3 separate regions of the Homo sapiens genome follow, and regions 1 and 3 are each linked to region 2. Evidence: fine-mapped expression QTL. A gene starts in region 2. Each other region holds a variant in brackets. All regions are shown on one strand. Distances are from middle to middle.

What was found.
Region 1: its variant is fine-mapped to the expression of ADAM28 in whole blood (TOPMed, PIP above 0.99).
Region 3: its variant is fine-mapped to the expression of ADAM28 in whole blood (TOPMed, PIP above 0.99).

What each region holds. Positions count from the first base shown.
Region 1 is chr8:24,345,321-24,353,620 of GRCh38, reverse strand. ADAM28 (ADAM metallopeptidase domain 28) reads right to left here. Exons shown (of 23, transcript NM_014265.6): 19 at 3,649-3,757; 20 at 2,311-2,389; 21 at 1,569-1,634. All of the region lies in intron 3 of ADAM7-AS1 (ADAM7, ADAMDEC1 and ADAM28 antisense RNA 1), which reads left to right. Among named protein-coding and RNA genes, the nearest start is that of ADAMDEC1, 35 kb to the left of the region's middle. The variant C/G (reference allele first, on the strand shown) is at 3,735.
Region 2 is chr8:24,289,508-24,297,830 of GRCh38, reverse strand. ADAM28 (ADAM metallopeptidase domain 28) reads right to left here and starts at 3,762. Exons shown (of 23, transcript NM_014265.6): 1 at 3,636-3,762. The coding sequence starts at 3,681. It overlaps ADAM7-AS1 (ADAM7, ADAMDEC1 and ADAM28 antisense RNA 1), which reads left to right. Exons shown (of 6, transcript NR_125808.1): 5 at 1,581-1,677; 6 at 1,774-2,017.
Region 3 is chr8:24,355,859-24,364,132 of GRCh38, reverse strand. It overlaps ADAM28 (ADAM metallopeptidase domain 28), which reads right to left. Exons shown (of 23, transcript NM_014265.6): 23 at 5,119-8,274. All of the region lies in intron 3 of ADAM7-AS1 (ADAM7, ADAMDEC1 and ADAM28 antisense RNA 1), which reads left to right. Among named protein-coding and RNA genes, the nearest start is that of ADAMDEC1, 24 kb to the left of the region's middle. The variant A/G (reference allele first, on the strand shown) is at 4,395.

The sequences.
Region 1 (8,300 bases), 56 kb before region 2:
ACTACTCAACCAATGAATATTCGTCCTACTTTAACCACTCCAAGCCCGTTGACTTTCTCCTCACCATATTTTTCCTGTCAGTGTCACTCGTCTTGGGCGATACTACAAATAACAGTTGAAGAATTAAGTGCTCCATTTTTATATGACTTGTTTTTTCTCACTAAAAATGTGAAATTTCTTGAAAGAAAAAAATCTCAAATGTAGGTCTTTCTCATTTACCCACAGCAGAATACCAGGCACAAGAAAAATGCTCAGGAGCCATTTAATGAGTGAATGTACTGTAATTCTTACTTCATGAGCACCTGACTCTTATTCCAGGTTTGCTTATATATGGCCCATTTTTCATACCCTACCTCCTACAGAAAACTATGACTAATATACATAAAGTAAAATATCACCTAATAAAATTTTATCTCCTTAAATAAACATCTAGAAATGAATCTTTGAGACCTCACAGAGCAGAGCTATTTATCGTTTCTCAATAATTGCATAACAGCAATACTATTTTTTATAATAAAACATCAATATCCATACTAATTTATAGACAGGAAGTTTTAGATATCCCTGGGACAAATGTGCTGTGATATTTCAAGTTAACCTCAAAAGTACACATCCTGATAACCGATGGATGTGGAGACAGTATTTGCAATGAGCAGGTGAGAGATTAAAAATTCACCAATGACTATCTGATACTTACAAGCAAAGAAGATGATATAGGTGCAGGAATTGGCGGTGGTGGAAAATCTGGCTTTGTAATTAGCTAGTAAAAGGATAAAACATTTACATTCAAAGATAGGGTCCTGAAAATAGGCGTGCATAAAGAAAAGACTTAAATCATTTTCAGAAATGGAGAAGCCATGACCCCACCCATGAGAATATTGTAAAATATGAGTTTGATTGCTTTCATTTAGTTGTACATACACAGTTGAGACCTAAGTCCAATGTCAATAGGTATCTGATAAAGATGATTGCTATAAACTGTATGTTTGTGTCACCCCACAATTTCATATGTTGAAACCCTAATCCCCAGAATGATGGTATTTGGAGGTGGGGCCTTTTGGAAATAATGAGGTCGTGAGGGTGCAGCTCTCATGATAGGATTAATGCCATTATAAGAAGAAGCACAAGAGAGATGCTCTCCCTCTGCTATGTGAGGATACAATAAAAAGGCAGCTGTCTACAAGCCAGAAGGCCGCTTCACCAGACACTGGATCTGCCAGCTCCTTGAACTTGGACTTCCCAGTCTCCAGAATGTGAGAAGTAAATATCTGTTGTTTAAGCCACTCAATCTATGTTAATTTAGTTACAGCAGCCTGAGCTGATGAAAACAGTGGTACTCTATTAAGCAGATTAGTCCTCTTCTTGTCACAAGTTGGCATGGAGTGACATACATGTTCATTTTTTTATATTTTCAAAATATTTTGCAGAAGAATTTGTATTTTATATTAATATTCACATAGATTTCAATATTGTCCTGAAGAAATAATGAAGTGTTGTGGGCTATGACTTTCACCGATATTTCCTGGAGATTGAACTAGGGTGGTATTTAAGAGAAGTTGCTAACTCACAAAAGAGGCTGGGGGCTCATTGCCTTCTACTGGCAGATCATACACATGGGGCTTCATCTGACTCATCTGAAAAGAAGAACGAATATTTCAAAATGAACCATTAGTTTCATAAGCACAGTTTTTAAGTAATTTTTAAGTAAGCACTTTTCAAGGCATGGAAGCTTGGAACTAAGCTGACACCAAGAGACCAGATAGAAAATCACAGTGGTCCTGCTGGCGTATTCCATAGAAGTATTTCCCAGAGCTGTAATGAAAAGTTTTCATCAAAAAATGATTACCAATGTTATAAATGATTACCAATGTTATTAACCAACTTCAGCTAAAATCTTTAAATTTACAGGACATGAGTAGGACATTTGGGTTATAAATATTACATGTATTATCATACAGACATACATATTTTTGTATCTATTTTGTCAATTTGCAAAGAAATAAGCTAGAGGGAGTGTGTGTGTGTGAGAGAGGGAGAGAGAATGAAGCAGAGACAAAGAGAGAGACAGACAGACATCCGGTATGTGCATTCTTTGTTCTCTTTATTCTGTTTGCATTTCATGAACCCCGGCAAAGTAGCCTCGGCATTTTAGGGACTCTTTTGCCTTTAACAAAAGGCAAAGGAGACATTTCTGAATGTGTTACTGCAAAACGCTGCTGGGTAGAAATGATAGATAGGTAGTCAGGATAAGAGTGTGAGAGAAACGCAAAGTGGGGCCATGGTAATCACAGCCCAGACTATATAGTTCACCTCTTGGGGTTGAACAGCCTTTACCATCTGGGGTTTCCTCTTCTGTTTGTGTGGCCTGGTGCCAGTGGTAGATAGTGGCCTGTAAGAGAGAAACACATGATATCAATTGACTTAGCAGCTCCTTCAGCATGACAGGGAAACTCCGTAGAAGATTCCCAACTTCTTTTTCCCATTGTGTCTTTCTTGCCTATTGCCTGGGTTTTTATCTGCTCCCTGGGTCAGTTTTTACTTCCCCGTCAGCCTCTTTCATTGCCTTGTAATTCATAATCACTACTAGTTTTCTTTTTTCTCCAAAAACCCCTGACTTCTAAAAATGATAGTGTTGAATCCAAATTTTATCTAAATTATGTTGTTTTATTAATGTCTTACTCAATATTAAAAAACTCATCATGAGTAAATAAGTCTTTCTTTAAAAGTGCTAAAAAAAAAAAAAAAAAAAAAAAAAACACCGTTGTGCCAGAATCACGTTCGTGAGACAAACCCAGCCTCCACCACTTACTCTGCAAGACTGAAAGCATGTTTGCTAATAATCTCTCTGAGCTTGTTTCTATATCCATCAAAATGTGAAGTTCCTAACCTTGCAAAATTGTGTAAGGGTTAGCATAAAACATTTCTCATCTGTAAAATGAAACTCATGACCACTTTATGAAGTTCTTGTGAAGTGTAAATAAGATAATAGATATAAAAGGGCTTAGCACACGGCCGGGTGTGGAGACTCACACCTGTAATCCCGGCACTTAGGGAAGCCAAAGTGGGTGGATCATTTGAGGTCAGGAGTTTGAGACCAGGTTGGCCAACATGGTGAAACCCCATCTCTACTAAAAATACAAAAATAACCCGGTGTGGTGGTATGTGCATGTAATCCCAGATACTCGGGGCTGAGGTAGGAGAAGTACTTGAAACTGGGAGGTGTGGAGGTTGCAGTGAGCCGAGATCGCAGCATCGCACTCCAGCCTGGGCCACAGAGGGAGACTCTTGTCTCAAAAAAAAGTGGGTGGGGCGGTGCTTAGCACAGTGCTCATCGTATATTGATCAAATAATGTTAGATATTATATTCTTACAACAAATTCAAAAAATCTGTCATAATGAGAGTTAATATCACTCTTATTATTATAACTACGGTGACTAACAGAAGGAAAAACAAAAAACATTTCTAGATGTGAAGGATTTCTCAGTTAAAGGGAAACCCAGTTTCTCGTCCAAAAAGACCATCTGCATGTATTTCTGAATATTAGAAGTAAACCAATTCAATTTGAAAGGATAGGTTATACATTGAATTTAAAGTAAAGTAAAATAGGGGTCAAAGAGTCCCTACAGCAAGATAAGATAAAGGATCACCTCTGATCTTTCTTCTGCTTTTCTCTGGAGCTCTGGTGCCGGATTACCATAGCAACCACCACAAAAATGACCGCCATTGGGAACAG[C/G]ACCCCAACCACAATGGAGAAGTCTGCAGCAGAGAACAGGGGCCCGCTGAGGACTGCAGAAACACACATCTGCACAACACACTAGTCCTTGTTTCTTTACTTAGCACATATTCCAGCTACCCTTTTCTCCAATGAACATAAATTCCCATAGCCAGTAAAATGAAAAAGTATTTTGATCAGGATAATTATATTAATATTAGGTAGAATAAATACACATGAAATCTATAGGAAACATTTAACATGAAATAAGTTAAAAATCATAATATTGAGAATACTTAGATAATGTTTGTAACAACTGGGAAATGAGCTGGGAGATTAGAAGAGAATATACAGTAAGGAAGATGGCAAAGAAGAAATGAAACATTTTTGAAAAGCAGTCTTGGAATAAAACAGAGAAAAAGAAACTAAAACTTTGAAAATACATTCCTGTCATTAGTGAATAAGAAGCTGAGGTGTGACTAAGAAGACAAATAATCGAGTGTTCCACTGATGTTGGTCTACACTGGAATTAGACAGGAAGTTATGTGACCTTGAGAATGAGGAAATGGTTTGAACAAATATTCCTGGGCCTCCATGGTGTTTTTTCTTGTACTGACAAATTTAAATAATGAATATAACTTCACTCTTTTGCTCTTAACTGTTCATTTCTCTTACAATAATCTGAAACCACAAGAGACCAGGAAGGAAAAGATTGAAAAGCAATGCCAAAAGTTACCGTTCTCTTATTACAGAAATCAGCAAACCAATAGCATGATTAATATTTGTATAAATGCAAGAAAAGTTCACAAGTGTGAGCACACACACACATGCAGATAGAGGTAGACACATCAGAAGCAGAATTCTAGGTAAGACAATGACTTTAGTTCAAATATTCGCTACTCGCCACCCTCCATAAGATTCCAATCCAAAAAGTCAAAGGAAAATAAAACAGTGAAGCATTCTGTTATAGTGTAGATACATTCAGAATGAAAAACATACACTTACTTGCACTAATATCAGAACTGTAACTATTTTCAGAAGAATGACATATTATCAGAGAAATAAATGGGAATTTGGCAGTACTTCACAAACACACCAAACTTGAAAAGACATGGTCTGGAGCTAAAATTGGGGCACAGGACAGATGGAAGTATAACAACGGAAGGTTTGCAGGTGAAGATAGAAATCACTGAAGAGTAAGTGCAGCCTCTTCTTGTTTCTGGTAATGGTGGACTAGGAAATTGAGATCAACCTGCCCATTAAAAATAATCTTTTAATCTTTAAATTTTTTGCAAACAAGCAAACAAAAGCATCCTAAAAGTATAAAAGTACTTAAATGTTAGATAAAATTACTTTGTAGAGATTAGTGAGTGGGCAAGGACCTGGAGAGACAGAAAATAATCCTAGATAAAAGTTCAGAAATGCAGAAAGAAATGAAAGGCAAATGAACCAACAGCAAACCCTAATGTAAACTGTGGGCTTGGGGTGATAATGATGTGTTAATGTAGGTTTATGGAGTATTTGTTACCATCAACGAATACTCCACGAGAATGGGGGATGTTGATGGTGAGGGAAGCTGTTCAGGAGTGGGAGTTGCTGGGTATATGTCAACTGTCTGTTCTTTCTCTTCAATTTCGCTGTGAACCCAAAACTGCTCTACAAAAGAAAGTAAGTTAAGTTTATTTTTTTAAAAAAGCAAATGAATTGGGAAGTTTTAGGGTAATCATTAAAATATAAAAGAAATGCATAACATCCAAGTTAATAAAATAATAAAATCAATAAGTCTATAAGAAAGTAAGAAAGGAGAGAAAAGGGAACATAAACAGGAAAGACAAATAGAAACTATATAATTGTGGATTTATACCCAAGTACATCAGTAATTACATTTAATTTAAACGGACTAAGTTCCTCAGTTAAAGAAACAAACAAAAACCAAAGATGTGAGTACTACTAAAAACTATATGTGCATGCTTTCTTTAATAAAAGAAAAAAAGACTTAAAACGTGATTCAGAAAGGATAAAAATGAAAATATGGAAAAATGTTATTTCAGGGCAAATACAGACCAAAACAAATACGTTACAGCTATATGGTCTCCAGGAAGTGTATATTCTCAAAGGTAAGAAGTGTACTAGATAGACACAGCACCATTTCATCATGATACACTGTTCATTAATTTGGAAGAAGCAACACTCTAAACTTGTATGTATATAATAATACGCTCTCAAAGTATAAAAGTATTGATAGAGCCAGAAGTAGTAATCAAATTCACAATTACAGTGGGGGGTATTTTAACACTCCCAGCACAGTAATTGGTAGAACAAATAAACAATGTTAGGCTTAATTTATATATCAGACAATTAATAAACTTGATAAACAAAATATCTGGAGAATACTACAGAACACGTATATGAAAAAATCACAGTCCAATATCACCCATGAATATAAAATAGCCAAAAAATACAAATTCTTCCGGAGAATATAAATGAATACTCTCCAATACACTTTATGCGACTAGCATAACCTTGATACCAAAATTCAGCAATTTTTTCAATATGAAAAAATCACAGTCCAATATCACCCAAGAGTATAAAATAAGAGTAAACATCCTTCACTATATAAAAAAGATATTATTTCTAACTTAGGTTTATTCAAAGGTTGCAAAGTTAGATAAATGTTCACAAACCAATTGACTTATTTGACAGTACTAATAGAGTAAAGGGGAAAACATTTTAATAAATAAGGAAGTATTTGACAGAATTCTTAGAAACTTGAAAGAGAACTAGTGGACCTTAATCCAATCACTAGAATGGATGATCTTGAAAGCATAAGGTAGAGAAAAAGAAGAAAATGAGCATAGAAAAATTTCATACATACAAACTTTAAAGACTCTTGGTGATAATGATGTGTCCGGGTATGTTCATGGATGTAACAAATGTATGTCTCTGGTGACAGTGTTGATAGTGAGGGAAGCTGTGTTTCCTGTGTTTAAAAACTTTATACACATGGAATTATATAACCAAAAGCTGCTGTTTAAGGATGTGTATTTAGGAAGCAAAACTACAAAGAAAACTAACAAAATGATTATGACAAAAGAAAGATTAATGGTCAACCCTTAGAGAAAGAGGGGAGATCAGACTGAAAAGAGGCAGGAAAGCAGATGTCTGGGTCTATTTCTTGGCCCTTATTATATTACATGAGCGTTCATTTTGTAATCATCAGGTTTGCCTTTATATTTACATGTCTGCTCTATTATGTTACACACAAAAAGATGGTGTTAACAATAATCTTGAAAGCCAATGGCTGTGTATGGCCATGTCGTAGGGCAGTGCTCTTAAACTTTGTCATGCTGCAAATCATTTTGGCAATCTGATAAAGCCTATAAACCCCTTTTCTGAGTGTTTCTAAATTCATTCATAAAAGGCATAAGATTTAAAGGAAGCTATTGATGTTGGGATACAGTTGTGAAAATATTATAAAACAATTTATGATATAGTAAAATATGTGTTTATTAACCTCTGAAATAATCAGTTCTAACAGTAGGTCAGTAATTACCAAAATTTCAAACAAATGATACTCATGGGGTATTTGGAGATACATTCAACAACTGCAATGAGATATTAAAGTCTTTGTAATTTCTATTGGTGACAAAGTCATGGAATATTGCTAATACTATTATGGTTTATAAGCCATACATTCCCATAATTGTAGAAAATTCTAAACTAACTTTAGAATTTAATGAAAATAAAAATGTAATTTTTTCCCATTCAAGTTTAGATTTAGGACCATAGCTATAGTAAAAATTGTCATCCTCTAGGGTCTGTCCTCTTGGTGCAAGGACACTTCTGAACTAGGAAATGTTCCTCAGTCTGTCTGAGGCTTTCCTTGATGGTTAGATAAGAAATAGCACTGAAAGGGCACTGAACCCACTAACACAATGCCCTAAAAAAAACAAGGCTTGGGGGATAAAGTTGAATTCTGATGTAGTGGTTTCAACAAACAGAATAAGTTGAGAAAAGCTTCCACTGTATGTATTTTGAACTTCTCCAGCTACCTCCTTATCCTGCTAAAATACAAATTTCATGTAATATACCGTAAAGTTGTATCGCTAGTCCTCCAAGTTAAAAATTTTGAGAAATACTTTTAACAGTGCTTATCAGAATTAATTCAACCTTATTGGATGATAACTAAAGAAAAAGCATCGGTTGAATCAAAAGATTAGGTATAAAATAACACATAGAAGTAGAAGTATACATAAAATGTATACTCTCAGAAAAGGAGTATAAAGAATCAAATTTAGGGTACTCTCAATGCAATTAAAATATAGACTGTAAAAAAGCTAGACAGATGTGAAACAGGAGAAAACAACCAACTGGGATAAAAAAATATTTCAAAGACACATAAAAATGCCACTGAATAATTTTAAATGTCATTATAAGTAATAAGAGAATTAACATTGCTAAAAAATGTATATTATGATACAGAGAATAATCTTGAAAAACTTCCCCAGAATTAACAAGAAAAATGACCCAATATGGAATATAATATGGAGATCACACAGTGGAGATATTTTGCATAAATAATTTACA
Region 2 (8,323 bases):
ATTCTTTTTCTGAGTTAAAATTTTTCTAATTATTGTAATTATTTTGAAACACTAAGATGCCAAGAGGTAAGAAAATTACTCCTGCCAGAAATTAACTGATGATATTGACACAATTCCCTGCTGCCTCCTTAATTCAGGGACACAAAACAAGCATACCATAAGGCACCCACGTGCTGCCTGGTACATTACAGTAGCTAATCAATGCAATTAGTCTTGTTAAGATAGAGAGTTCAAGAAGCCAAATTTCACCAATGTTGCAGCCAACATAAATCTTTTTAAATGCTATATTAGAACACACATGATTCTAACAGGAAATAGTAGTCCAAGCTGCCTTCGTGGAATAAAATAATAGCTACGTTCCCGATTTTTTGTATAAAAGCAGAAAATGAAGTGAGTTTCCTTCTCAGCACCATTCAGAAATGGTAAGAAGGAAAACAGGCTCATCTAGCCAACACAAATTTTCTCTCACATGCACCCTGACCTCTATGCTTCTAGTTAGTATCTGAATCCCAATGTTTCATGAAATTAGAAATTGCAAACTGGCTCTTAAATATGGGCTTAAAATATGTAAGTTATGTAATTTATTTCCAACTTTTTGGTGGCCGAACACTTCCAAATGGAAACCAAAAACAAAGCAAAATAAAACAAACAACAACAACAACAAAAAAAAACCCACAACATTTCTTTTAGAAATCATTGGCAACCTCTCAATCTCTTCAGTTTGAAGTGAATGGAATTCCAGCTCCTTCCAAACTCCTGTCACTCCATATATTCTCTAAAGAAACTAAATGGAATTTCTCTTAAAGGCTCTTATTTTCTGGAAACCTAGAAGTCCCTGAAATAATGGGATCTGGAATACAACAAATTACACAGCCATTGTAGGGATGTAACAGACCTAAATATTGTTTAGCTCATCCATCCTTAAGTTTAATGGAAATGGTGCAGCGTCTTCCCCACTGAATAACATCACGTTAATTATTTTTGAAGCCTGAGGAACAAACACAACTAACTGCCATCCAGGGATTACACAAATCCAAGGTGTAACACAATATGTTTTTACTAATTCATTTTAATACTTGCCTTCTCTCTCCCACAGAACTCACACACTGGATTAGTCTTGACTAGCAAAACCAGATCAGGAAAAAGAAAACTGTTATTTTGGTTTAGATGGGATAATTATTTTTGACTGTTTTGAGTCTTAGAAAAGCCAAAGCTCATTAACAACGTTAATATGAGAGACATTAGTCTGGATTGCTACATTATTTGTTCATGTGTTTGGGGTCATTTTGGAAATGGGAACATGAGTATGTAATATTGACATTTTCATTTTCGTTCAAATGTGTTTGAAACTGTTCAAAGAAATGTCTTCTTTCCAAACTGAACACATCATATTAAACGCTGAATTAGGGTTTACACAAGGATATTGACTTATGTCCTGGGATTCTCTGCATCTCCTCAAACCATCTTGTGGTTTTAAACTTCATGCATTAAAAGTGAGTACAAACAAAAGGGAAAAAACTGCATTTCTATTAGGTCTGTTATTTTGACTATTTAGATTAAACTGTATATTTTCTTTTCAGTCTTCCAGTTACCTTATAAAGGCAAGGAAGAACTGGTAGTTTGAAATAAAATAATTTCAAAAAGTGCTGTACCCCCTGAGTATTCTGCTGTAATAAGGTAAGCACCTTTCTCCTTTGTTGATGCAATCATTTACATCTTCACCCCGCAAACACCTGTCACATCCTTTTAAATATTTGTTTTTCCTTTTCCTAGGATGAAATCCCATAAGTCAATTTTTTCTCGGGATTGTGAAGTTCACTGCACACAACCAGCCTTATTTTACATCTCTTTCTTTTATTTCAACCATCTGGGGACTGGGCAGAAGTCATGGTCAGAGGGGCACATATGTATTGCTTTGATGATGGGGGCAGAGAACAAACAGGAAGAACTGGGAAATGAAAATTGCTTTACTTCTTATATTCTGACTAGAAAGGCAACCCAAATGGGAATCATAACAGGGATAGTTCAGTGGCAAAAAGACACCCTTAAAAATAGAAGCTAGAAGTTAAAGGAGGGGTGACATCACACTTTTAGAGTTGACATCAGAGGAAGTTGCATCTCTTGGTGCCATGTTATACATGCACCGTCGGGGCAGCAGAACTGATTAGTGTGCCCAGTTGCACAAAAGGACTGTAATGTGCATGGGCCCCAGTGTTAGCCATGTGACTCTGTTAATGGATCCAGCTTGATCTTTACGCTCTTCAACTAAGCTAGTGCCCAAGCAGTTCTTGTATTTCAGCTTAGAGGGGGTTCTGGAAAAGCTCTTGGTGATAGCATTTTTGGAGAACGGAGAGAAAAAAACATTTCTATTAAGTCTGCCTCAAAAAGTAGGAATTTCAGGTCAATGTTAAATGCCTGGCATGAGTTTTATATATATTTTTAATATTTCAGGCTTATTTTACCAAAAGAAAGCTGGTGTAACACGTTCACATCAGACAAAATAGGTATCAAAGCAAAAGGCATTAGAGATGAAGAGGATCACAGCACAGTGGGAAAAGGTTCAGTTCAGATATAGGTACATATTATATAAAGCAAAAATACACAGAAACAAAAGGAAAATAATTCGATATTTAAAGATATTAGGTTAAGTGAAATTTTTATAAGTCTTGAAAACAAATCAGAAACAGGTGAGACACAGGAAAATCATTTTTAGCAACAAAGTACTAAGAGGGTGCATGGACAAGGAAAACTTTTCCCTCCCTAAGCCCATACCTCTAGTTGATAATCTGTTCCCATCCCCAGGTCCCAGCAAACATTCTAAGACCCAAGAACAGGTTTACTGGGAGGAATTCGAGGCACTGCAGTTCATGTGCTGAGTTAAATAAGCTCTGGAAATAGAAGCTGAAGAATCACAATACCCAATCTAATTTAACCAAAGTCTAATTAGAGAATTTACCAGAAATTGAGAGACTTGCTAGACATAATTTCCTGTTAGGAAGTAGTATTTTTCTCCTTTCAAATTTTTAAATGTTTGGTATAATCAGCAAAATAGAAGTAAATTATCAATTTAAGCTTAACAGAGATATTTTGTTAAGTAATATCACAGTACCTTATAAATAAAAAATATTAATTATTTCCAGTTAGTCACACGTATTATTACTAATAATGAGTAAATACAAAAATATACACTCAAACAGAAAGAGCCAAACTGGCTCCCATAATAATAGTAGGTATTTTCCTAAGCCTTGTACACAGTAATAAATAAATAAATCTGCCACATCTTTACCATTCTTTAAATGACAAGCTGGGTTTTGATGAATTCCACTTTTTCAGTCAAAAATCATATTCATGATTTAAATTGTGCTGTATGAAATTGTCCCTTTTATTTCTGTATATTCTCAGATGAGATGCATACATATTGGTTCAAGACCTCTTGTTGCCTCTTTTTAACATTGTCTTTGTATCACTCGCAGCCCCCAAACAACAGGTTAAAACCAGCCCAACTGGTTAGTAAGATTGATTGAGAAAAAAGAAAAAGAAAAAAGTCAAAATAGTTTATACAATAAAACTATTAGGAGACTATGAAAAGTTCGCTAATGCATTCAATAGAACCTGAAAAAGAGCTAAATATGTACCTGCAACAGAGAGGAGGAGACTGACTGGCAGGAGACCTTGCAACATGCTGGGTGATTCCAGGAGCACGGTGTCTGCTCTTCTCGCTCAGGTGGGTGCTGCTGGGTCTGTCCCTGCCTCCTCTCCAGTGAGACAGAATGAAACTCCCTGGTTCATTCTTGTCTCTGATTCAGGAAGTGTTTACTAAAGGTGTTGCGCAACCTCGAAGCTGTGGTCCTGCAACAATGGCCCAGCAGGCGGAAGTCCTGGCTGCCTCCTGGCTCTAAGATTACTTGATCTGAACTATTGTTTTGCTCTCCTTTGCCATACTCCCCACTCCAAAGTAGTACATTTCCAACATATTACTATAGCCAGATAAGCTACAAGGAAAGAGGCAACTGCATTAATGAGTCTTGAAAAACATGCTAGACATTTATTTACATTACGGATATGATATATAAATATATGTTTAAATATATTTTTATATATATACAGTTGTAGGAAAAAAGTTATTAAGAATGTTATTTTTCCCCCACATACATAATGTGGTTATGTAAAGCAATTTCTAATTCAACCTAATTACTATATAGCATTCTCTTTTCCATTATTTTATGTTCTATTCCTCACACAAGTGTACTCTCAGGAAGTTTGAACTATCCTGAAATAAGAATGTCTGACAATATAAGCACAATAATTTTTAGATCCTTGGGGGTATTTGTGTCATAACTGGCAATGAGGAGTGTGGAAGAAGGATTCAAGACCCAAAGGATACAATTTTAGGATCTGTCACTGGTGGTAGTAAGGCTAAACTGGGCATGTCTAAAAATCATACTTATAACCAATAAAATAACTAATATCAACTGAGCTGCTTATTAAGTTTTAGGTACTGATAGGGTTTGGTTGTGTCCCTACCTGAATCTCATCTTGAATTGTAGCTCCCATAATCCCCATGTGTTGTGGGAGGGACCCAGTGGGAGATAATTGAATCAAGGGGCGGGCTTTTCCCATGCTGTTCTCATTATAGTGAATAAGTCTCATAAGATCTAATGATTTTATAAAGGGCAGTTCCCCTGCTCAGGCTCTCTTTGCCTGCCTCCATGTAAGATGTGTCTTTGCTCCTCCTTCACCTTCTACCATGAGAGTGAGGCCTCCCCAGCCATGTGAAACTGTGAGGCCATGAAACCTCTTTTTAATTTACCCAGTCTCAGATATTTCTTCGTGATAGTATGAAAATGGACTAATACAGGTACTCTCCTAAATCTACTGTACTTGTTATTTTATTAGTCTTTATGATACTCATGTATTATGCATTTACAATCATTTTGCAGGTGAAAATTTGGGGTTTTAAAGGCAAAATTCAAAAGATTAAGAATCAGTTGTCCCCTCATTGTATAGATTAAGAAGATTAAGCAGATAAAGTCACCTATCCAGTAAGTGGTAGAAGTGGAATCTGAACTATGTGTTGTCTGGGCTCTTAGTCATATACTCTAATGCTTTCCCTTGGCTTAGCTGACTTGTACTCCCAGTATCATTTCTATTGAAAAGATTCTGGGAGAATAGAAATAATTATGAAATTCCTAAGGAATAGAAATTACGCTGAGGACCAGTTATTACCACAAAACCTAGTCCTAGTCCACTAAAATCATGCATCATTTTACAGATTCTGAAACACATTCTCATACTAGAGGGATTACAGTGATTATTGATGTCTCCAAATGATTATACAGTCATCAACTAAAACCACAAAGGAATTTTTGAGTCTAGTTACTGAGCATTTTAACCATCAGGATTGCGATTCACAGATTTCTTGCCTTTTCAACCCAAGTTCCATTGCTTTGTCTTTTCCAGGGAACAGAAAGGATACTTCAACTTTTAATTATTACATATTTTTTCTCCATTAATTCAACGTAATTTTACTTACAGCTATTATGTGTCAGACACTGAGATTGCAGTTGAAAAAACACAATCATGGCCGGGAGTGGTGGCTCATGTCTGTAATCCCAGCACTTTGGGAGGCTGAGGCAGACAGACTACCTGAGATCAGAATTTGAGACCAGCCTGCCCAACATGGTGAAACCCCATCTCTACTAAAAAAAAAAAATTAGCTGGGTGTGGTGGTGGTCACCTGTAATCCCAGTTACTCAGGAGGCTGAGGTAGGAGAACTGCTTGATTGCTTGAACCCAGGAGGCAGAGGCTGCAGCGAGCTGAGATTGCAACAACACACTCCAGCCTGGGCAACAGAGCGAGACAGTGTCTCAAACAAACAAACAAACAAAAAACACAATCACTTTCATTGAGATGTTCACAATCTGACAAAGATAAGTTCAATTACCATAAAATTGCACAGAGTGAGTACCACCTATAAATGATCACAATATCACAAGGTGTTTAGTGTTACAATAGATTTATCAATAGAAGTCAGAGGTCTACACCAAACAGGGCAGGGAGTGCATCCTGGTGGCAGGAGTCCTGGGAAAAGGACTCCCTATTTCATAAATGGTGCTGGGATAGCTGGCTAGCCATATGCAGAAGAATAAAACTGGACCCCTACCTTACACCATATACAAAAATTAACTCAAGATGGATTAAAGATTTAAATGTAAGACCTCAAATTATGGAAAACCTAGAAAATGACATTCTGGACATTGGCCCTAGGAAACAATTTATAACTTAAGTCCTCAAAAGCAATTGCAATGAAAACAAAAATGGATGAGTGGGACCTAATTAAATTAAAGAGCTTCTGTAGAGCAAAAAGAAACTATCAGCAGAGCAAACCAACAACCTACATAACGGGTGAAAATATGAGCAAACTACACAGCTGACAAAAGTCTAATATCCAGAATCTATAAAGAACTTAAACAATTGAACAAGCATGAGATAAGTAACCTCATTTAAAAATGGGCAAAAGGGTGGGTGCAGTGGCTCATGCCTGTAATCCTAGCACTCTGGGAGGCCAAGGTGGGCAGATCACCTGAAGTCAAGAGTTCGAGACTAGTCTAGCCAACATAGTGAAACCCCATCTCTATTAAAAATACAAAAATTAGCCACGTGTGGTAGGCACCTGTAGTCCCAGCTACTTGGGAGGCTGAGGCAGGAGAATCACTTGAACCCGGAGGAGGAGGTTGCAGTGAACCAAGACTGCGCCACTGCACTCCAGCCTGGGTGACAGAGCAAGACTCCGTCTCAAAAAAAAAGAAAAAAAAAAAAAAAAAGGGTCAAAAGAAATGAACAGACACTTCTCAAAAGAAGAAATACAAGCAGTTAAAAAAACATGTGAAAAAATTGCCCAACATAACTAATTATCAGAGAAATGCAAATCAAAACAATGAGGTACCAACTCACACCAGCCAAAATGGCTATTACTAAAAAGTCAAAAAATAACAAATGCTGGTGAGGCCACAGAGAAAAGGAAACACACAATGTTGGTAGGAATGTAAATTAGTTCAGCCACTCTGGAAAGCAGTTTGGAGATTTCTCAAAGAAATTAAAACAGAACTGTCATTTGACCGAACAATCCGTTTACTGGATATATAGCCAAAAGAAAATAAATTATTCTACCGAGAAGACACATGCTTATGTTCATCACAGTACTATCCACAAGAGCAATGACATGGAATCAAGCTAGGTGCCCATCAGTGGTGGAATGGATAAATACAATGTGGTACATATATACCTTGGAATACTATGCAGCTATAAAAAAGAATTAAATTGTGTTCTTTGCAGCACATGGATCACCTAGAGGCCATTAACCTAAGTGAATTAATGCAGAAACAGAAAACCGGTACCTTACACCATATACAAAAATTAACTCAAGATGGATTAAAGATTTAAATGTCAGACCTCAAACTATGGAAAACCTAGGAAATGACATTCTGGACATTGGCCCTGGAAACAATTTATGACTTAAGTCCTCAAAAGCAATTGCAATGAAAACAAAAATGGACAAGTGGGACCTAATTAAATTAAAGAGCTTCTGTACAGCAAAAAGAAACTATCAGCAGAGCAAACCAACAACCTACATAACGGGCGAAAATATAAGCAAACTGCACAGCTGACAAAAGTCTAATATCCAAAATCTATAAATACTGCATGTTCTCAATTATACATGGGAGCTAAACGCTGTGTACCCATGGACATAAAGATGACAACAATAGACACTGGGTACTGCTGGAGAAGGGAGGGAAGAGGGGAAAAGGCTGAAAACCTAGCTATTGGATACTATGCTGAGTACCCGGGTGGCAGGATTATTTGTACCCTAAACCTCAGCATCACGGAATATATCCATGTAACAGATGGATATGTACCTCCTTGAATCTAAAATAAAAGTTGGAAAAAAAGAATTATGAGAATAAATAAGGACAATATATTATAGCACATTAGTTTATGGCTGGTAGTGTTTGGAATTGTTGGAGCAAAGAATGCCTGAGAGAATGGGAAGATATCCTGCTAAGTATTTGTGCTTGACTTTGACGCTGTGGTGAATGGTCACCACTGATGGGATCGAATGAGAAGTATAACCTTCCTGCTTGCTTCTTGAGGAGGGGAGTGCCCTGGAAATGGTGAATGATGACAGTCTGCATGCTGATCCATGTGGAATTTTAAATTGGCACTTGTTCTTCGGCTCTTTTCAATTCTCTTGTAGTCGTGACATGCCTTTGATCAGTTTGTTCCAGTTATCATTCTCATAATTTTTCATCATTCTTCATAGCC
Region 3 (8,274 bases), 66 kb before region 2:
ACAAAAAAATCCTGTTTGAATATTGGCAAGTCATACATTTTTAATTTCATTTTATAGATGAGTAAATGTACAGATTGTATACTTAAGACTGGTAAAATCAAAGAATTGAAATTATTTGCATAAGGCTAAAGAGCTAGTTTTTGGCAGAGCCAGGAGGACTATCTATACTTTGTTTTCTGTGTGTGGCTTACCATCCTGCACCAAAAACTGACTTTTCTCTTATTCTCTTGTCTTTATATTTCTGCTACATTTTCGTTCCCTTATTTCCTATCTGAGACTGCAGCTTTCCAGTGGATCTACTCAGCCCTGCCATGGGCACAAAAGAACTGAGAGAGTTTTGCCAGGAACTGGCTCCTGCAGGCTCCATTTCAATTATACTTACAACATGTCTCAAGAGACCCACGAATCTCAGAGCTATTCCACAGCAGTTAGAGAGATCAAGGCCAATTTGGCAACACATGTTGATTTACAAGGGAACAGTGTTATCTGCTGAGACATAGCACTTGGCCTGTGCATTGGAGTCTTCTCTATGAGAAATGGAGCAACTTTTGCGGTCCAGCAGTTGATACCTGCTTTCTCAAAAGCTACTGGGACATCAGGAGGGGACCGTTATCTCTAGTCATAGCATCATCATTTCATTTTTCATTTAGATAATTTTCTGAACTTCCTTAAATTGTTGTTCCCATCAGGATTGCACAGCTAAGATTTCAACATTGAGCCATTGTCTGTGCTTGGTCAACTAAGCTTAGAAAGAAACAATGGATGTGGTTCTCATGAAGAAGAGAATAGCAATAACTGATTTAAATGAGGTTCTAAAATACTAGGAATAAAGTATGTATCATTATCCATTTTAAAATAGGTTTGCCATCAAAAAAAATTGTAAATTAAAATGTATAAAGTGGAGAAAAACAATGTTAATTTGAATGATGACATGGAGCAACAGAAATTATCTCCAGCCCTCTCAAATAGAAAATAAATATATTAAAAGATGATTAGGTTATTTAGCCTTAAAAATAAATGAAATGCTGATACGTGCTACAATATGGATGAAACTTGAAGACATGGTGCAAAGTGAAATAAGTCAGACACATAGATGGAAAAATACTGTATAATTCCATTGATAGGAGCTACCTAGAATAGGCAAATTCAGAGACAGAAAGTGGAGTAGAGGTTACCAGAGATTGAGGGGAAAACATAACGGGGATTTATTGTTTAATGGATATAGAGTTTCTGTTTGGAATGACGAATGGGTCCTGGAAATAGATGGTGGTGGTGGTTGCACAGCACAATGAATGTACTTATGTCACCAAATTGTATTCTTAAGACTGGTTAAAATGGTAAATTCAATGTCATATATATTTTACCACAATAAAACATAATATTTGAGTTAAAACAAAGGATTTTAGGTAGCTGAAGGACTCGACATGAGGACTGGAGAACCAAACTTGGTAGCTATGCAATGAGGAATTCCAGCCTGTATCGTGGAGCTGAATAATACAGAATGTCTGTCTCACCCTTGCCAGTCACTCAGCTGACACTGCTGATACTCCTTGCACTAGACCAGCCTTGAACCAGCAATTGGCACTAGTCTCAAGACTTCCTGAGGAACTCAACCTTATTATAACAGTGTGCATCACCAAAGATAATTCTCTGTAATTTCTGCTTTATATTACATACTTCTGATTCAAAGTTCTGGGAGGGTACATCTGAAAGGTAGATCCTTGGCCATAACTATGTCATAGGTGCAAAAGAGGGTTGGCCAGGCACTGTAGCTCAAGCCTGGAATCCCAGTACTTTGGAAATCCAAGGCAGGCAGATCACTTGAACCCAGGAGTTCAAGACCAGCCTGGGCAACATGGCAAGACCCCTTCTCTACAATAAATACAAAAATTAGAGTGTGGTGGTGCATGCCTATGGTTCCAGCTACTTTGGAGGCTGAGGTAGGAGGATTGCTTGAGCCTGGGAGGTTGAAATCACAGTGAGCCAAGATCATGCCACTGCACTCCAACCTGGTGCAAGAGAGGAGAGCAAGACCCTGTCTCCAGGAAAAAATAAAAAGAATCTGGTAACAACATGCAGAATATTTCCAGTTGCCACTGCAAATAGCAAAGGAGCTATATCTCCAAGATGTGCAATGTGGGAATCCTCTAAGCAAGGAAAGGTGTTAAGATAGGCAGGTATTAAGAATGAGAATGCCTATGTGGAAACAGTTTCATAAATTGCTAATGGAAATTTAAATTCATACATATTCCTACTAGAGAAAAATTTTTGCAAAGTGTAGCAAAAAAGTTGGAAAACTTTTAGGGGGCTAGCCAACATATAGAGTACTATCCAAAGGAAATAAGAAGTAATAAACGTTGGGTGTTGTGGATCACATGTGTAATCCCAGTGACTTGGAAGGCTGAGTCAAGAGGATTGTTGAGTCTAGGACTTGGAGACCAGTCTGAGCAATGCAATGAAACCCAGACTCAAAGAAAAAATAGGCCTTGTTTTGGGCTGCACAGGTCGCCATTAAGCACAGAAGAACTTATCCCCCAATTGTTGGCTGTGCTACCTGCAGACAGCCATCAACTTGCCTTGGAAAATGCTTTCACTAAATAAAGTCATCTTGCCCAAGGTCACAGCTCTTTTGAGAGCAATTTGTACCTGGAAAATGCTTTCACTAAATAAAGTCATCTTGCCCAAGGTCACAGCTCTTTTGAGAGCAATTTGTACCTGTGACTAGTTGACATGAGGGAGTAAAAGCTTTTCCCTTTTGCCTCAACTTGGCTTCATTCTGAAGGATAGCCCAGGTTCAGGGCTGGCTGGGCCAGCTAAAGCCTTCTTTGAGGCAGCATCATTCCCAACTCCTCCAGCCTAATCCTGCTTTCTCCCATTCCATTAAACAAATAGGGGACCTGACCTGAAAGCCCTCCATAATAAACTTCCTGGCTGCTAAAATCCATCTCAGATTCTGCTTGCCCAGGAACCCGAACTGTGATACAGAGAACTGCCTTTAGATGGTATATACACCATTGTTCATCACTGCATTATTTTAGCCATAAACATTTTTGAAAAAAGATTTCATTGTTGAATCAGATATTAAGTAAAACATTATTCATTAATAAAATAGTATTGATGGCTGCATAATATTCTTATAGATTTGTGTCATATTACTAAGTAAAATTAAAAGCCATAATACAAATAGCATAAATATTGAATTAATACTTAACTTATATACCAGACAGAAAAGAGAGGAAAAGGTCATATTTCCAAGTGTTGATTGAAATCATACTTGGTGAGATTAGGAAAAATTTTTGTCTTAGTACTTTCTCTTGTTTCTCAACCTTTCTATATTAAGCATATATTGTTTTTTAAATTTTTTAAAAATTATACTTTCAGTTCTGGGATACATGTGCAGAATGTGAAGGTTTGTTACTATAGGTATACATGTGCCATGGTGGTTGGCTGCACCCACCCACCCATCATCTACATTAGGTATTTCTCATAATGCTATCCCTCCCCTACTCCCCCACCCCGCAACAGGCCCCGGTATGTGATGTTCCTCTCCCTGGGTCCGTGTGTTCTCATTGTTCAACTCCCACTTATAAGTGAGAACATGTGGTGTTTGGTTTTCTGTTCCTCTGTTAGTTTGCTGACAATGATGGTTTTCATGTCCCTGCATAGGACGTGAACTCATCCTTTTTTATGGCTGTGTGGTATTTCATGGTGTATATGTGCCAAATTTTCTTTATCTAGTGTATCATTCATGGGCACTTGGGTTGGTTCTAAGTCTTTGCTTTGTGAACAGTATCACAATAAACATACGTGTGCATATGTCTTTATAGTAGAATGATTTACAATCCTTTGGGTATAAACCCAGTAATGGGATTGCTTGGTCAAATGGTATTTCTGGTTCTAGAACCTTAATGAATTGCCATATTGTCTTTCACAATGGTTGAACTAATTTACACTCCCAACAGTGTAAAAGTGTTCCTGTTTCTCCACATCCTCTCCAGCATCTGTTGTTTTCCTGACTTTTTAAGGATCACCATTCTAACTGGCATGAGATTGTATCTCATCGTGGTTTTAATTTGCGTTTCTCAAATGACCAGTGATGATGAGCTTTTTTTCATAGTTTGTTGGCTGCATAAATATCTTTTTTTGAAAAGTGTCTGTTCATATCCTTCACCTACTTTTTGATGGGGGATTTTTTTTTTCTTGTAAATTTAAGTTCTTTGTAGATTCTGGATATTAGCCCTTTGTCAGATGGATAGATTGCAAAAATTGTCTCCCATTTTGTAGGTTGCCTGTTCACTCTGATAGTTTCTTTTGCTGTGCAGAAGCTCTTTAGTTTAATTAGATCCCATTTGTCAATGTTGGCGTCTGTTGCCATTGCTTTTGGTGTTTTAGTC[A/G]TGAAGTCTTTGCCCATGCCTATGTCCTGAATGGTATTGCCTAGGTTTACTTCTGGAGTTATGGTTTTAGGTCTTACGTCTGAGTCTTTGATCCATCTTGAGTTAATTTTTGTATAAGGTGTAAGGAAAGGGTCCAGTTTCAGTTTTCTGCATATGGCTAGCCAGTTTTCCCAACACCATTTATTAAATAGGGAATCCTTTACACATTGCTTGTTTTTGTCAGGTTTGTCAAAGATCAGATGGTTGGAGATGTCTGGTGTTACTTCTGAGGCCTCTGTTCTGTTCCATTGGTTTGTCTCTCTGTTTTGGTACCAGTACCATGCTGCTTTGGTTACTGTAGCCTTGTAGTATTGTTTGAAGTCAGGTAGTGTGATGCCTCCAGCTTTGTTCTTTTTGCTTTTTTTTTTTTTTTTTGGGTGGAGTCAGTCTTGCTCTGTCACCCAGGCTAGAGTGCGGTGGTACGATCTTGGCTCACTGAAACCTCTGTGCCCTGGGTTCAAGTGATTCTCCTGCCTCAGCCTCCTGAGAGCTGGGATTACAGGTGCCCGCCATCCTGCCTGGCTAATTTTTGTATTATTGGTAGAGATGAGGTTTCATCAACTTGGCCAGGCTGGTCTCGAACTCCTGACCCTCGTGATCCACCCACCTCAGCCTCCCAAAGTGCTGGGATTATAGGCATCAGCCACTGTGCCTGACCAAGCATACATCTTTTTACAGAAGAAAATTAAATAAGTATTTTATATTTGTGATTTGTCCAGATTTTAAAATAACATTGTCAAACTATTTAAAGTAACAAATAGTTTTAACTTTGTGTGAGGTGGGAGCAACATAAACGACTTAGTCATCTTAGTCATTTAATATTGAGATGTCAGATATATCCCAAGAGTATGGACTTTAATATGAGGTGAAGGAGATAAACCGTTTAATGTTCACAAGAAGTTGCCTTCACAATAAATTGTATACCGTAATTTTCATGCTTAGGATTTTTTTTATAACAATAGTATTCGCTTAGCATACTACTAACAGTAATAGTGATACTGTATTAAGTGTTGGGCATTGTAGCAGACCACCCAGGCCTAGTTGCTAAAAAGTGCCTAACATTGTCAAGGGAAAGCCTTTTTATGGAAGCAGCAAAAGAGACAAAGTGAATTCAAGGGCAGATGTGCCAACGTGGCTACAGATTTTGTTAGAGGTGTTTTCTCCTGAGTTGGGATCTTCCCTGACAAGGTGGAGCTCAGTATCTCCACACAGCTGTGCCACTCTTGGCTTGGCCCACTTTGGAGAAAAAAAATTGAGGAGAAAAGAATATGCAAGACTTGCTTATCACCCCAACCATTTCCATATTTTTCCATATTACATCCAGATGCTAGTGTATGCAAATTATTTAGCTTACGCTCAAGAGATGGATTCTTTGAACAATGACATATGATGAAACAATATTAAAGCTGATAATAATATTGGATGCACCAACTGAAAAATAGCAATATAACACTTAGGAAATAATGGTGTCTTTGAATGATGGGGAACATACTAGTCAAGTGGCTGAGAAAGCATGTACTTCTGAAAAATATTTACTGTGGGAAGCAGTAATAAAGTTTATACACATTTTGCTTTAATTTTTAAAATATCTGGAAATATAAGTTAAAAACAGTTAATTGGTTAGCCTTTATAAAATTAAACTGATAGGAAAGAAGAGAATGTTATTAAGTAAACAAGAGAAACAACTATATAAGTAAACAAGAGAAACAACTATAAATTTTGAAATTAGTGAACAGGAGGACTGACAGTACAGAATATAAAAACCAGTAATTTGGAAGATAAATTTAAGGAGTTATCCAAAATTACCAAGGAAACACAAAGTGAGAAAGAATATGATAAATGAGAATACTGGCTATCAGAGATTTCAAGCAAATCCTCGGTGCTAGTAAAGAAGGGAGAACAAATGGAAGAGACTAGAGACACAAAGAAAGGAAAAAAAGTTTTGCAGTGATGAAAGCCTATTAAATATAGTTAATTTTACCTAAACCTATCTGGAGCATTTAAAACATTATATGGTTTGGCTCTGTGTCCATCCCCCCAAATCTCATTTTTTTAATTGCTATAATCTCCACATGTTGAGGGAGGGACCAGGTGGGAGGTGATTGGATCATGGGGGTGGTTTCCCCCATGCTTTTGTCGAGATAGTAAGCTCTCAAGAGATCTGATGGTTTTATAAGTGTTTGACAGTTCCTCCTTCATACACATCTTCCATCATATGAGATGTTTCTGCTTCCTCTTTCATCATGATTGTAAGTTTCCTGAGGCCTCCTAGGCCATGTGGAAATCTGAGTCAATTAATCCTCCTTTCTTTATAAATTACCCAGTCTCAGGTGGTATTCTTTATAGCCATGTGAAAACAGACTAATAGAAAATGTTTGTTCTCTACTTCCTTGTATCAGCTATCTATTGCTGCATAACAAATATCTCCAAACCATAACAACTTTAAACAACACATATTAATTATCATACAGTTTCTGTGGGTGTGTAATCTGGACAAAATTTAGCTGCATCCTCTACTTCAGGGTGTCTCACAAGGCTGAAGTCAAGATTCAGCTGGGAAGGAATCTAAAATTCCAAGCTTATTCAGTGGTTATTGGTAGACTTCACTTCATTTGAGGGTCGTTGAACTCAGGGGCTCATTTTCTTAATGGCTGCTAGCCAGAGGCCACCTTCAATTCCTTAACACATAGCAGTGATTTCCAATGTGAATAATAAAATCCTAATTATAATAATAACCCTTTCCATATTCTCTGACTGCAACCAACTAAAATTTGCTTTCTTTTCATGCATACTTCATTATTTTATAAAAAGCTAAAAGCCTTCCCAAAGGCCATATAAAACCAGTAATTTGGTGAGTTGTAATAAGTAGACAAACACTAAGGTATCTTAGAGTAACTGGATAAAAACATAATTTAACCTAATAATTTCACTGTTTTAAAGTAGACAAGGTAAAAATAACTAATGATGAAAACAGGTTTGGTGGCATATCTGAGGTAGTTAAATGTCAAATAAGCGGAATTCCCTTAAAGTTAGAAAGTTACGGATATAAGTAAGTGTGGAAACAGTATTGTGAAATCAAAAAGTCTGTTCTAAACTATTCTGCAGTTGAGCTGAAAGGGAAACATTGTAGGACTTGGGTTCGCAGTTCTATGATAAAATAATGGTTTTCCTGTCATTGTACTGCATTTCTTCTCTTCAAATAGGACGTATGATGCATCTGCATCAGGGACCTAGTGACATCATTTAGGAACTTGCAGGCATGTTCACATGCCACTGCTTTTGAGAGTGTATGGTTTAGTTTTTGCTTGGGTTATGGTACATGGCTAGTTGAGGATTCATAGATTTAAGATTTCCATTCCATCAGTATAAAAAAGGATTAGGTGAATCTATTACTGGGGACAGATATTTAAAAAACAACAACAACAACACAGAAAAGTTCACAAGTTGGTCACGAGTACATAATGGCTTTCCAGGAAATAGGGATTTATTTCTGGGTCAGGGGAGGGTCTTCTGAAACCTCACAGGGCAGATAAAGCTCTACTTTTAAAGTTGTTCTTCTGCAAATGCCACATGGAGAAAAAGCCTGTATCCTTGACAGTGATTTGATCAGTGGACTCTGGATTTCCTGAGGACTGAGCTTCACTTTTGAGGCCAGAGTGGGCTTATCTAGAACCTCATACTGCAAGGGTAAATGAACCATAAAGTTCCTCATGAAGCGACAGGCCTGTGGGGACCAGGTAAGTGATTGATAGAAATGGGTGAAGCAGACAAATACAAGAAAAACTGTAGCTGTGATGATGAACTAAAGCATGTTCCCTGATTATGGAAACAGCTACTTTAC